Regions from separate parts of the Homo sapiens genome. Here region 2 is linked to region 1. Evidence: fine-mapped expression QTL. Tissue or cell type: whole blood. Region 1 holds a variant in brackets; the other region holds the start of a gene. All regions are shown on one strand. Distances are from middle to middle.

Evidence for each region. PIP is the estimated chance that this variant, and not a neighbour inherited with it, causes the effect.
Region 2: it holds the start of GNG7, and the variant in region 1 is fine-mapped to the expression of GNG7 in whole blood (TOPMed, PIP 0.96).

What each region holds. Positions count from the first base shown.
Region 1 is chr19:2,675,400-2,678,149 of GRCh38, forward strand. All of the region lies in intron 1 of GNG7 (G protein subunit gamma 7), which reads right to left. Among named protein-coding and RNA genes, the nearest start is that of GNG7, 26 kb to the right of the region's middle. RefSeq lists a silencer at 2,683-2,750. The variant A/G (reference allele first, on the strand shown) is at 1,382.
Region 2 is chr19:2,701,159-2,703,908 of GRCh38, forward strand. It overlaps GNG7 (G protein subunit gamma 7), which reads right to left and starts at 1,536. Exons shown (of 5, transcript NM_052847.3): 1 at 1,488-1,536. RefSeq lists a silencer at 1,432-1,821.

The DNA.
Region 1 (2,750 bases):
ACCCACCAAAAATCTGCAACCACGAAGACCAGGAAATGCCAGCAGTGCCGAGCAGGAGAGGTCGCTTGACGGTAAAGAAGCAGGGAGCGTTATTTAGCAAACCAGGCTGGTTAAAGAGTAGAGAATATCAGATGTCGCGGCCCCTCTGCAGAGGACAGTTCTGAAGGACAGCGATGACCTAAATTGGCTCCTATGAGGGACTGCTGGGGGAAATATTTCCCCAGGATCCTATAAGATACAAAGAAAAACATATGAAAACAGAAAAGATATTCCCGACACTTGGGGGTCTCAATGGGGCGGGGGAGGTCTGAGGACATCTGTGGTTTTCACGATTGGGGGGAGCTCCTGGTATGGAGTGGGTGGAGGCCAGGGACACTGCTCAGCACCCTGCAGTGCCCAGGATGGCCCCTCCCCAGAGAATGATCCAGCCCCAATGTCCACAGCACCAGGGGGAAGAGACTCAAAGTTAATTATTTGGAAGAAAATATTGTTGAGCCAGATGCCTCAGAATGGGACCTTATTTGGAAACAGGGTTTCTGCAGATGGACTTATTATTAAGATGTGGTTGTGCTGGATTAAGATGAGCCCTAAATCCAATAACTGATGTCCTTATAAGACGAGGGAAATTTGGACACAGACCCACACAGGGAAGGGGGCCGTGTGAGGATGGAGGCAGAGACTGGAGCGATGTCACCAGCCCAGGGGCGCCAAGAACCGCCGGCCACTTGCCAGATGCTGGAAGAGGCAGGAAGGATCCTCCCCGGGAGCTTCTGGGCCGGGAACGGCCCTGCCCACACCTTCGTCTCAGACTTCTGGCTTCTAGAACTGCCAGAAAATCCATTTCTGTGGTTTTGAGCCATGCAGGTTGAAGTCATTTTCCATGGGCGCCCTCAAATATCCAAACTTCACCCCACAGAGACCCTCCCCTAGGCACCCACATCCTGGCATGTTCAGACACCCTCCTCGTGAACATGCACAGCCCCCAAGGCACCAGATAGACATTGATTTCCATCTAGAAGTGTCCGTCAAACCCTCAGCGATATATCTCTGCCGCCCAGGCTAGAGTGCAGTGGCACAGTCTCAGCTCACTGCAACCTCCACCGCCTGGCTCAAGCGATCCTCCCACCTCAGCCTCCCAAGGAACTGGGACCACAGGCGCGCACCATCATGCTTGCCTAATTTTTGTTTTCGCTTTCTGTAGAGATGGGGTTTCACCATGTTGCCCAAGCTGGTGTCAAACTCCCAGATTCAAGTGATCCTCCCGCCTCGGCCTCCCATAGTCCTGGGATTACAGGTGTGAGGCATCGCGCCCAGCCTCTTTGGTGGTTTTCAGGAACAGCTAGTTAGTTATTCTGCAGATGGAGGTTCAGGAGCTTGCACC[A/G]CTTCCTAGACCCGGCTGGAGGAGTTGGGTGTAATTTTCAGCCGGGCGGGTGCAAGACTCAAAGAGATGTGTGGCAGAGAGAAGCTGTTCAGACAGCTTCTGGGGTTGCCAGGAAGAAACAAGCCACTTGCTCCGATCTGCACATTCCCTCCCTGTCCAGGGCTGATTTCCACCCAGGCAGGACTCCCGATTCCCAGAGAATCTCAAAGCAAGGCATTCTCCTGGCCGTGATCCGGCTCTCAGCTCTAAAGGGACTCCATATCTTTACTGCAGACCCAAATCTGTGTCACCACAGAGGAAAAACGGCCGCTTAATTACACTTGCATATATGCTCGCAAGAATTCTTCCAGGGAGCAGGATCTGGGAACGTCCTCTGGAGACAGGGCCTTCCAGGAGACGCTGAGCTCGGTGTTGGAGCATGGAGGCTGAATCTAATCCATCAACAGGATGCCACAGGGGAGCAGAGAATTCCATTTTTTTTTTTTTGCTTCAATTCCTTTCTATACAACCGTGGTTCTCAACCAGGGGTCCTTCTGGTCCCCAGGGGATGCTAGGTGGTGTCTGGGGGCATTTGTGACTGTTATGACTCAGGGATGCTCCTGGCGTGGAGTGGGTGGAGGCCAGGGATGCTGATCAGAACCTTGCAGTGGCCAGGACAACCCCACCCCAGAGAACGACCCAGCCCTGAATGCCAAGGGGGAGAGACTCTGCCTTAATTATTTGGAAAAATATTGTATCTGCTCCCTGTTGACACCAGACACTAGAAAAAATTCCCGATGGGGTGGATGGCAGAAACCAAGGGGGGCCCCAGCTCCTGCGATTCTCCTCCTCTCTCCCTCCCCACTCAGGGTGTGGATTACAATGTGTGCAGCCTCCTGGAACCTCAGGAGGACAGAGGATCATGAGACACAGAGTTTCTTGGGGATCTGTGGAATCCCCTAACCCCCGGGGGTCTCACCTGGGGGTGATTCTGCCCCCCATGGGGCACTGGGCAATGTCTGGGGACATCTTTGGTTGTCACAACTCGGGGTGTCCCTGGCATAGAGTGGGTGGAGGCCAGGGACGCTGCTCAGCACCCTACAGTGCCCAGGATGGCCCCACCTCAGAGAACGATCTGGCCCCAAGGTCCACAGTGACAGAGAGTGATAACCGCTGCCATAATCTATAGGACTGACCATAGCCACATGCATATGGTCACACAAACATGAGTGTGACTGTCCCTCTGACTCAAAGGACAAAGCCAGTCCCAACCTTTCTAACCCTGCCACCTGTGCTGACCACCAGTGGCCTCTGTGTGGATGTTAGTTAGGGTTCAGCAGCCTTAGGAAAACAGAACACCAGGCATCCAGACCTTCCACTGTGGCCCTGA
Region 2 (2,750 bases), 26 kb after region 1:
TCCCGTCTCCTTCAACTCACTGTTCCCCAGGGGGTTCTGCCCCGTGCCCAGTTCTAGAGCAAACAATTAACATCTCCCCCAAAAGTAGAGGGGTGAGTCCTCTCCAAATTCCTTTTAACTGGATCCTACCTGAGACACCTCCCCACACCCCGTTTTCCTCCTGATTAGTCAATGTCTAGCAAAACACCTGCCCCCAGGTGTCTCCAGCCTGGGACCTTACCCCCACCTCCCTTCTCACTAACTCACCCCAACTTCCTTCTCCCTGAACCCCCTTCCACCCCACACACTCACAAGCTCCCCATTTCCCCTGATAGCCCCCAGACCCTTTCTGGAACAAGCCTGACCCCCACCTGTATGCTCCAGCCACTCCCTGGCTCACCCCAGCTTTGTCCTTCTGCCCCTTTTCAGCTAACCCTAACCCCTGGGCCGTCAATCACACCCCCCCATCTTCACCAACCCCATTCCTCAGTCCTCTCCCCAGACAACCTCAACATCTAATTCCCTCTGCAGCCCCCTCTCCAATGAACCCCACTTCAAACTCCATCCCCAGCCCCCTCTCCAGCTCCCTGCAAACCTCAACCCCACTCCCAGCTCCCTCTTCAAAGAAGCTGCACCCTTGACTCAACCCCTGTTCCCCGCTCCAATTAACCTCAACCCCCAACACCATCCCCAGCGTCCTCCCCAGCTAACTCAGATTTCCAATTCCACTTCCAGCCCCCTCCCCAGCTAACCTCGACCTACAATTCCAGCCCCCTCCCCAGCTAGCTTGGACCTCCAATCCCACTCCAAGCCCCCTCGGCAGCTAACCTCGACCTGCGACTCTAGCCCCCTCCCCAGCAAACTCAAGACCTCCAATTCCACCACCAGCCCCTTCCTAGCTAACCTGGACCTGCAATTCCAGACCCCTCCCCAGCCAACTCAGACCTCCAATCCCGCTCCAAGCTCCCTCCCCAGCTAACCTCGACCTGCAACTCCAGTCCCCTCCCCAGATAACTCAGACCTCCAGTCTCACCCCCAGCCCCCTCCTCAGCTAACTCAGACCTCCAATCCCACCTCCAGCCCCCTCCCCAGCTAACCTGGACCTGCAACTCCAGCCTCCTCCCCAGCTGGCCCTGATTTCTAAGTGGAGTCCCAATGCCCAGACCCAATCCTTCCCCAGCTAACCTCGATCTGCACCCCCTGCCCCGTCCCCAGCTAACCTCGACCTGCAACTCCCGCCCCCTCCCCAGCTAGCCCTGAGCCCCAAGTGCAGTCCCAATCCCCAACCCCAGCCCCTCCCCAGCTAACTTCGACCCCCTAAGCGCAGCCCCGTCCCCAATTCCAACCCCAGCCTCCAGTTGCAGCCCGGGTCCCCAGACCCAGCCCCCCTCCTCAGCCGACTCCGACCCCCAACTCGGTCCGCAGCCGAATCCGAGCTGTCCCAGTCCCCTCTCCGGGACGCCGGCCGCGCCCTCACTTCCCCTGGCCCGGTTCGCGGGCGCCCTTACCTGCGCTCGGGCCCCGCGGCCGCCTCAGCCCCGCCGCGCAGCCGAACCCTCCGCCCCGGCCCGCGAGCGCTCGCTCCCCTCTGCGGGGGCGGGGCCGACACTCGGGGGGCGGGCCCTGGCGTCCCGGCAAGGCCAATCGCGAGCCCCGGCTGCGGGAGGCCGGAGCGGGGGCGGGGCGCGGGGCAGGCAGCGGGGTAGGCTGCGCCCAGGAGAGTGGGGCGGGGCTCCGGGCGCGGGCGGGGCCGGGGGCGGGGCGAAGAGCGGCTTTCCAGGGTGACTTCGTGACGTCAGGAAGGCGCGAGTAGTTTCGCGAGTTCGAATCCCGCGCTAGGTGAGCTGGTTCGAATCCTGCATGCCAGCTCCGGGGGCTCATTTGCTGGGGAAGAATGTCAGTGATCATAACTGCTGCACCGCTTTCTTGAAGACTTTATAGGCTCCCTCTCGTGGGACCCTCCGCATAAGGCCAGAAGGCGAGATTACTATCCACATTTTACAGAGGTGGAAACTGGGTCTCAGAAAGGTGAAACCTAAGGTCATTTGCCCAAGCCTGTCTCATCATTTCCAAGATTTCTCAGTTTCCTAACTCATGGCCCTGGATCCACAAATTCCTGAGCCCCAACACAGATGGAATGAACCAGAATCCTATAGGGAACTGGACCCTGAAATCTGTGTTTTGTTTAGTTTTCGTTTTGTTTTTGAGACAGGGTATCACTCAATTGCCGTGGCTGGACTGCAGTGGTGCAGTCATAGCTCACTGCAGCTTTGAAGTCCCAGGCTCAAGCAGTCCTTCCACCTCAGCCTTCCGGGTAGCTGGGGCCACAGGCACGCACCACCACATCCAGCTAATTTTTGTATTATTAGTAGAGACAGGGTTTCACCGTTTTGGCCAGGCTGGTCTCCAACTCCTGACCTCAGGTGATCCACCTTTCTTGGCCTCCCATAGTGCTGGGATTACAGGCGTGAGCCACCGTGCCTGGCCCTGGCTAATTTTTTTTTGTTAGAGATGGGGTCTTGCTATGTTGCCCAAACTGGTCTTGAACTCCTGGGCTCAAGTGATTCTCCTGCCTCTGCCTCCCAAAATGCTTGGATTACAGGCCTGGAATCTTCATTTTCCACAAGCTCCCTTGGGAATATTGGAAAACACTTTGTATGTCTCCAAAAGCAGTACACAGCCCTGGAAGGAAGATGGAGCCACCATATTCTGTGACCTCAGGGATTTCATCAGGCGCTGACACTGTGTGTCCTTGCCGCCCCACCTGAGCC